2 linked regions of the Homo sapiens genome follow. The protein of the gene in region 2 purifies or fractionates together with the protein of the main gene of each other region. This does not show direct contact. Each region holds a gene or a part of one and is shown on either strand. Other genes may lie near its edges.

Region 1 (3,813 bases), on a different chromosome or scaffold from region 2:
CAAAAGACTAGAAGCTTTTGCTTCTGCTTAAACAACCGACATGAGATTTCTATACTATCAGTGACAATGATGACAAAATGCACATTAAGAATGATCAATAAATGGGCAATTACTATTAATAGTAATAGTTCTGTTTACTCATGTCAAATATTTCATATCAATAGTTTAGCAGTTCTTGTGACCATTATATTCCTTAAAAACTTCTATGTCAGAGAGAAGGCTAATACTACTACATTCGGTCTACGGACAGGTAATGGAAGGTGCAATATCCTGTATTAAGACTACATAATAAGCCAGTAGGAGGATGGGCCAGGAGTTCAACAGTTCCACAATATGTCAGAGCATCACTATTCTGCTAAGAACCCTTTCCCCAAGGAAGCCTTTAACTTAATGACATAGAACCTGAACAAAATTCTTATTATCTTCTTGAGTCTCTGGGAAGGAGACTCTTTGTTAACCCCAGGCTATTTTCTAGCCAGACTGATGTTGAACTTAAATCCTTTCTGCTGTGGCCCAAATCCACTGCTTTCATGCTCACTGAGTGCTGACTACATACCAGGCCCTGTGAGACTGCAAGGGTACAATGATGAGCAAGTTACAGAGCCTGCTTTCAGGAGCTCACAGTCTTTGGGTCTGGACACTGGTCATGACAGGATACACACTTCCTTAAACCACGCTCATTTGCAAACCACTTCCACCTCATTTGCAAATCACCACCTGCCTGATTTTGCCTTATGCAGCCACTCACCGAGCTGTAACCTATATGTGTTGAGACCTACTGGGCCCTGTGAGGACTTTATCAGGGAACTGTCTGTATCACAGTTTGATAGTACAGGTGATGGGGTATCACTCAAGATGTACTGTATTGAGCAGAGAGAGCCTCCTTGGTCTCCTGGGGCACTGGGCAGTGTTTGAATGGTATAGGGCCTGATGGCAACAGCAACACCTGAACCAGCACGGAGGCTGCCACTCACCTGATGCTTTTGGAGCTCCTGGACATATCTGGTCATCTCCTCCTCTGTCTGGGTCTGGGCCCCCTTCTGATTCTTTCCTGCAAGAAGAACCAAAGCTCAGAGCAGTAGCAGCTGTGGTAAGCCAGTGAGGAATCCGCCAAGATCTACCTAGAGGCTCTCAATTCATCTCCCATTTAACTTGTGGAAGGAGAGGTGAATTACCCACATTTTCTGAGTATGAAGGCATGAAGGGGCCCTGTGTAATTGATACCTCCAAGGTAACACATTGTAACAAAGCAATCTACCCCAACTCCTCTCTGGCCTTTGTTCCTTTAACTGCTTAGCACATCCCAGCCAGAAGCTGGCCCTACAAAAAAAGTTATGGTGAAAACTTGGATCCTGACACTGGAGATTTCTCTGAGACAATGACTCTCAAGTCATTCATATACCATCAAAATGTCCTGGAGAACATTTGAAAAGATAGCTGTCTAGTTCCACCTTCAGAGATTCTGATTTAATTGATGTGAGGTGAGATCTGGACACCAGTATTTTTTTACAAGTCTTTCTAGTTGGTTCTAATGTGCAGCCAGGGTTGACAACCATTTCATCTAGCAATGTTTCTGAAACTTGCACAGTGATAAACAAAAACAAAAACTACACAGGTTCCCAAGCTGCTCTTTTGCAAATTCTGATTTACTAGGTTTAGGATGAAATCTCTAGGCTTATCAAGTAGAATGCTGACCATTAGGAAACACTTCTAGGACATATCTTCCAAACATTGCTATCAACCTTCCCTTCACAGCAGTTTCCCTTGGCTCTGCCTCCTCCTGGCTTCAAATTTTGATGCCCCTTCTTGCTTGTCCCATTTTGATTTGTGATCTAAGATCAGACTGCTAACTCTCAGGTATTAACCTGAAAATGCCCCAGAATGCTGGCTCCACAAACTCCTCTTAGATCCACGGCCTACACATCCATACGTGCTCAGGCCCCTGGGGCACCACCATCTAACATGGGTTGCTCCATGTTATACCCACATAGAGTTCTGGACTTGGTCATCCAGGGAGGATGAGCAGCCCATAGCTGAGTGGCTGTGGAAATGGGCAACATCCCATGAAGCTGATCATTTGAATTTTGTCTGATGCATGTGATAGAGATTATTATCCAAATGACCATGCTTATTCTATAAGCCAACTGCATACCAACTGCCTGCACCTTAGAAATGGAGGGCTACCTTTACAAAGCCAGAACAGCAGCAGTTAGAAGCGGAGAGGTACTGAAGGGAGTTTAGGGAAGACAAGTATAGGATGCTTCATGGTTGAGGCAGGCTAGGCCACTGACTGTTTTGAGATGTGTTTTGTTGGTTTCAGTAGCAACTCTGTGTTTGGTCTGGAGATCCTGGCTTGGTCTTGACTTCTAGGAACTTGTAGGAATTTCTAGTCTCTAAACAGCCTCTTCCTGTTCCTTCACCTGTCCCTGTAGTTACATTGGTTTGCTGTCGTTCCACACTGAAAACAGACTTGGTCCTGGGCAGCGGTAGACCAGTGATACCTTAGATAGTACTGGGCCATTTATACTGTTGCTGTTCTCTAGGATCCTTGTCTAGAAGAGCCTCATCCTGGGTTTCTGACCTCTGTCTCCTAGTTACCATTTAACCTGATCTTCCTGAACATTATCTTAGGTTCCAGCCAGCTCTTCCTTGACACAGTTAACTTCTTAAAATAAACTTTTTTTTTTTTTTTAAGACAAGGTCTTGCTCTGTTGTCCAGGCTAGAATGCAGTGGCGTGACTATGGCTCATGGCAGCCTCAACCTCCCAGGCTCAGGTGATCCTCCCACTTCAGCCTCCCAAGTAGCTGGGACTACAGGCACGTGCCATCACGCCTGCCTAATTTTCACATTTTTGTAGGGACATGGTCTCGCTATGTTGGCAAGGCTGGTCTTGAACTCCTGGGCTTCCCACTTTGGCCTCCCCAAGTGTTGGGATTATAGGCATAAGCCACTGCGCCTGGCTGATATAACTTTAGGTTCACCCTAGCTGGTGAAACTTTTCGGCCTGGTTCCAAATGACCTTAAGGCAATTCTCCGTTGCAGACCTGGCTTCAACACCCTTCTCTGTCTTGCCTCCACTCTGAATATCCCTGGTTCTTTGCTAGGGCTCGGCTTTAAGAGTCCCTCTTGATCTTTGGCATCATTGTAGCCCAGGACCCAGATGGGACTCCAGTGGTTCCAACATACCCTGTAGCCTCACACTGCCCCACAAACTCTCAGATTTCTCTGTCTCCCCAGACCACCCTGCACATATCTCAACTAGCTCAACTTTCTCTTTTTAAAAAAGATTACCCATCTCTGTTAGTTGAAAGAGGGTCTACAAACATATTTTCTTTTTCTGCTGGGTATGGCAAGGAGAAGTCATTTTGTCTTCCAACCACTAGTCTTTTACCATTTCCTAAGGTGTTATAAGGATCAATGGGTTAATATGTAAAGTGCTTAGAAGAGAGCCTGGCACATGGTTTTTGCTGAGTATTTGCTTTCACTGTTACTATTCCATTATTATTTTTGATTATTATTAAATAATAATTATTGTTTTTATTTTAATGTTTTAATTATTAAATAATTACTATTTTTAATTATTATTCCATTATTACTACTTTCACTGTTACTATTTCCATAATGTTACTATTCCATTATCATTTACTTTTGCCCAGGGTCTTGGTCCTCTCTTATTCCAAGCCTCTGGAGTGATTTTCAAACTGAATGCCTATGGGATAAATGTTCTGCCCTCAAAGCTCCCCACTTGGGGCTCCAACCTTACAGGTGTGGGTCTGCCTGGGTTCCTTGCTCCCAGCCACCGCCCTCTTCTC
Region 2 (4,516 bases):
AACATTTCAATTCCTGTGTCCTTGTTACCATGGTTTTTATTCACGGCTGCAAGATGGGAAATCTGTAAGGAATGCAGGATAATTCCTACCAAATATTCTCCTCTGTGACACCTGGACTCAGGCCCCATTAGTAACAGGATGCTGGTTCTCTGGAGTTAATTATCACCCACAGCAAAAGGCCACTCCACTATGGAAACCACCCTGTACTCAAGGCTCGAGACTGCAGGATTATAACAAGACCAGTGGAGACGTGGAGAGCAAGTGATTTATTAAAGCAAGACGTTGAAACCTTTACATTCTGCAGTGAAGATCAGGGTGTCATTGAAAGACAGTGGAAACCAGGATGAAAGTTTTTACATGTCACACACTACATTTCTTCAATATTTTCACCTAAAATAGGAAAAGAAAAAAGAAGGTGGGGTCAGTCATGCTGCTGCTGGAGGTGACAGGCTCACATCCAAGAGGCCAGTGGGATTCTGCCCCCAAAGGCAATTGGAAGGGCAGAGGCAACAACTCAGTTTGGGAAACTGAGGCCTAGACCTGGTGGCCTCACAGCACCCATGCCGGTGATGGAGCAGCCTTTTCTTGCCAGGCCAATAGCCCTGGGGTGATCCGGGAATGAGGCCCAGGATCCTCATGGAAGCAAGTGACGAGGGTTGGAGAGAGCAGCAAGAGGTTATTGCCTGGGCTGTCCCAGGGCTTGGAGTCTCCTGGTTCCTGCAGTGAGGGACCCAGGACTGAGAGGCTGGTCAGGGCTGAGAGGGCTTCTGGGAAGCTTGGCTTCCAGGAGACTCCAGCCTCCCCATGTGGGAATTCTGCCTCAGGGCCCGAGCACCTCTCAGTCCCGAGCCTGCAGCTTCCATGAGCATTTGCAGCTAAACCTCAGGACAGCAACTCAGAGGCAGCCAGGCAGAGAGGCCCCTGGAAAACCTCTGATTTCTTGAGAAAGACAGAGTGAGAACATCCCGCTTCCATGGCACTGCAGGAGGTAGACTAGCTAGGGTCTTGGACGACTGGCCATGGTCAGGAGAGTGTCGTGGGTGTGGAGGGGAGTATGGGGTCTCAGGAGCTGGGAGGGGCTCCTTCCTGGCTCTGCAGAAGCTGCAGAGAAGTCCAGCCTGCCAGTGCTACATCTGCAGGAGCCCCTGCTCTATGTCCCTCCCTGCCTTCCTCTCCCTGTTCAAGGCTCCCATGCTCCCCAGGACATTCCACAGTGACTGTGTCCATTACATGAGGGCAGTTTGGTCTCAGGAAAGCTCCCAGCAGCGAGGCGGCCATGCTTGGCCCTTTACCATTTCTGCCTGGGCCCAGGCTCACTCCCCATGTCCTCAGCACACTCTGGGGACATGGCATCCAGGCAGGTGACATGAGAAGGAGGAACATGCAGGAGGCTGTGTGCAGCTGAGTTGAATTCTGCAGGTGAAATGGTGGCACCCACCCTGTGGCCCCAGGTGACCTTCTCAAGAGGTGACCAGCAAGGCAGCTGCCCCACCACCTGTGTCCCCAACAGAGCAGCAAGCTGACCTCACTTCATACTGTGCAGCTGACCAGAAGCCTTAACAAATAAAGGAGAAAGAAGTTACCAGGACTTCCGCAATGAGGCTTCGTTTCTGAAGGGACATCTGATCCGTGCATCTCTTCACTCCTAACTTGGCTGCAACAGCTTCCGGAGGGGCATCAAATTTGGCAAGACTTAACTTGAACAGAGGTTCACTAATGAAGAAGAAGTCTAACAGCTCAGAAACAAGAGCTGGGCAGAACTCGGCATTGGCTGCAGCAAAAGAATAAAAATATAGTTGATGTTAGGAAAGTCGATTTTTCTCTTTGGCTCCCTGACGTTAGACCAGACAGGATCCCCTGGGTTATATGTTCACATACATTTGTTGTGCTGATGACAATGCCAGACCCTTCAGGTGTGACTTCCTCAAGCTCTCACAATAAAGGAAAGCACTTCATATCAACAGCCAAACTCTTTTTTTTCCCTTTGTCACCCAGGCTGGAATTCAGTAGCTCAATCATGGCTCACTGCAGCCTCTACCTCCTGGGCTCAAGCGATATCCCCATCTCAGCCCCCTAAGTAGCTGAGACTACTGGTGCATGTCACCACGTCCAGCTGATTTTTCATATTTCTTTTGGTAAAGCTGGAGTTTCGCCACGTTGCCTAGGCCGGACTCAAACTCCTGAGCTCAAGCAATTCACTCTCCTTGACCTTCCAAAGTGCTAGGATTACAGGCATGAGCCGCCATGCTTAGCCCACAGCTAGACTCTTTTGACAGTATTAATCTTTCTTACTCCATTCTCATAGCCTCTCCTGGCAGAAGCGCTAACTACCAGTGATAGGAGGAGGCTCAGGGAGGGTGAGCATTGTGCCCAAGGTCAAAGGGCTGGGAAGTGGCGGATCCCAGATTCACCCCAGACCTCACATTACATCATCTGACACAGATCCCACCCAGGAGTGAAGCTCAGGCAGAAGAATTCCTAATATTTGCCTGCACTGATTTTCAATAAAACTTCGTAGGTGCTGGGGAGTAGAAGAAATAGCTCTGAACTTGATGAGGGGCTTGTTCAACAAGCACAGAAAAAGGTTTGGAATTTTGGTTTTGTGCAGATCCTAACCCCAGCCTGAATAGGTGACCTCGTGCTTGGAAGAGGGTGCTTCCCAGGGGCTGGAGCTAGACTCATGACTGATGTACTCACCCTGGTAGCAGCAGAGGGCCAGCGTGACCAGCAGGAGACACACCGACAGCTTCATGGTGGCTTGTTTTGCTGTGAGCTCAGCTTTCACAAACAATGAGTGATTTGGACTCCACCCCAGGAGCCTGTGGAGCTGCAGAGCCCAGGGCTATTTGTACCTAGGGAGTCTAGCTGGTACTGGTCATGAGGCCTGGCTCCCAGCCCACCTCTCCTTCCCAGGGCTGTTGCCATCCATCTGTGTCACCTCCCCACGCCTCCCTGCACTCTGACTGGGGCAGAGCACAGGAGGGTAGCCCTGCAGGAACTCTGCTCTGTGTTCCAGGTGAATGTTCAGGCACCTCTGGAAATATTCCTGGGATTCTGTTTCCTTCTGAGTTTTGCTGATTATTTTTTTTCTTTGTATCAGTTCAAGGGCACAGGTAAATTCTGACTTTGGAAGGCACAGGAAGCTGGAAGGCTGTGTTCTGGTTATGGGGGAGCAGGGACATAAGGAAACCCTGCTTTGATCCCCCTGCATGTCTGACAACCAGTAGGCTTGTTTCAGTTGCACATTGAGCAAGTCTAAACAAGACCTATTCCCCTCAGCCCCTCCCATCACCACCATGTTCACTGCATAGGTACCTAAAACCTAGTTCAATGCATCTTACCTTTGGAGGATTTCCTGGGGAAAAGCAACTGCTGCACCTGTTCTCTAGCCTGTCTCACTCCCAAACCTGAGTCTTGTTTATGAGTGCAGCTATAAATATGGCCAAGACTCACATTTTCTCTCTACGAGGAGCAAGCTTTCTGTGATGTGTAGCCACCCACATGTTGATGGGTTGACCTGATGATTACATAGCCTAACTTTTTCCAAGTAGCTTTTGGAGTGTCCAGAGCCAATCATGCATCGGACAGGTACTGAGAGTTCTTTGCTCTGGGGCTCCAGGAGGGGAAGAAGATGGAAAAGAAGAGACAGATGATCAGGGTGAGTGGTCACTTCCCCCCAACCTCTAGGCTCAAGTTTTCCACTTCAAATCTAGCTGTGCAGCCTGAGCCAATCCCATTTTTAATAGAAAGGGAAGGAAGCACCCAGACAAAGCAATACACACCCTCCTGCCCTCCTGCTGTGATGCCTTTGTGTGGTGTGAGCAGGAAATCAATCACTAGAAATTTCTCTCTCTTTTTTGTTATTATACTTTAAGTTTTAGGGTACGTGTGCACAACGTGCAGGTTAGCTACATATGTATACATGTGCCATGTTGGTGTGCTGCACCAATTAACTCATCATTTAACATTAGGTATATCTCCTAATGCTATCCCTCCCCCCTCCCCCCACCCCACAACAGTCCCTGGTGTGTGCTGTTCCCCTTCCTGTGTCCATGTGTTCTCATTGTTCAATTCCCACCTATGAGTGAGAACACGCGGTGTTTGTTTTTTTGTCCTTGCGATAGTTTGCTGAGAATGATGGTTTCCAGCTTCATCCATGTCCCTACAAAGGACATGAACTCATCATTTTTTATGGCTGCATAGTATTCCGTGGTGTATATGTGCCACATTTTTTTAATCCAGTCTATCATTGTTGGACATTTGGGTTGGTTCCAAGACTTTGCTATTGTGAATAGTGCTGCAATAAACATACGTGTGCATGCGTCTTTATAGCAGCATGATTTATAATCCTTTGGGTATATACCCAGTAATGGGATCGCTGGGTCAAATGGTATTTCTAGTTCAAGGTCCCTGAGGAATCGCCACACTGACTTCCACAATGGTTGAACTAGTTTACATAATCATGTGATTTTTTCATTGGTTCTGTTTATATGCTGGATTACATTTATTGATTTAC

The links.
Region 1: the proteins of SCGB1D2 (region 2) and FSTL1 purify together in Homo sapiens (affinity purification with mass spectrometry; one large-scale study listed by BioGRID and IntAct). This does not show direct contact.

What each region holds. Positions count from the first base shown.
Region 1 is NC_000003.12:120,398,909-120,402,721, forward strand, and holds part of FSTL1 (follistatin-related protein 1 precursor), read right to left. Parts: intron 1,052-3,813; coding exon 975-1,051; intron 1-974.
Region 2 is NC_000011.10:62,240,544-62,245,059, reverse strand, and holds SCGB1D2 (secretoglobin family 1D member 2 precursor), read right to left. Parts: upstream 2,822-4,516; 5' UTR 2,753-2,821; coding exon 2,698-2,752; intron 1,772-2,697; coding exon 1,584-1,771; intron 391-1,583; coding exon 361-390; 3' UTR 248-360; downstream 1-247. UniProt on the Homo sapiens protein: May bind androgens and other steroids, may also bind estramustine, a chemotherapeutic agent used for prostate cancer. May be under transcriptional regulation of steroid hormones.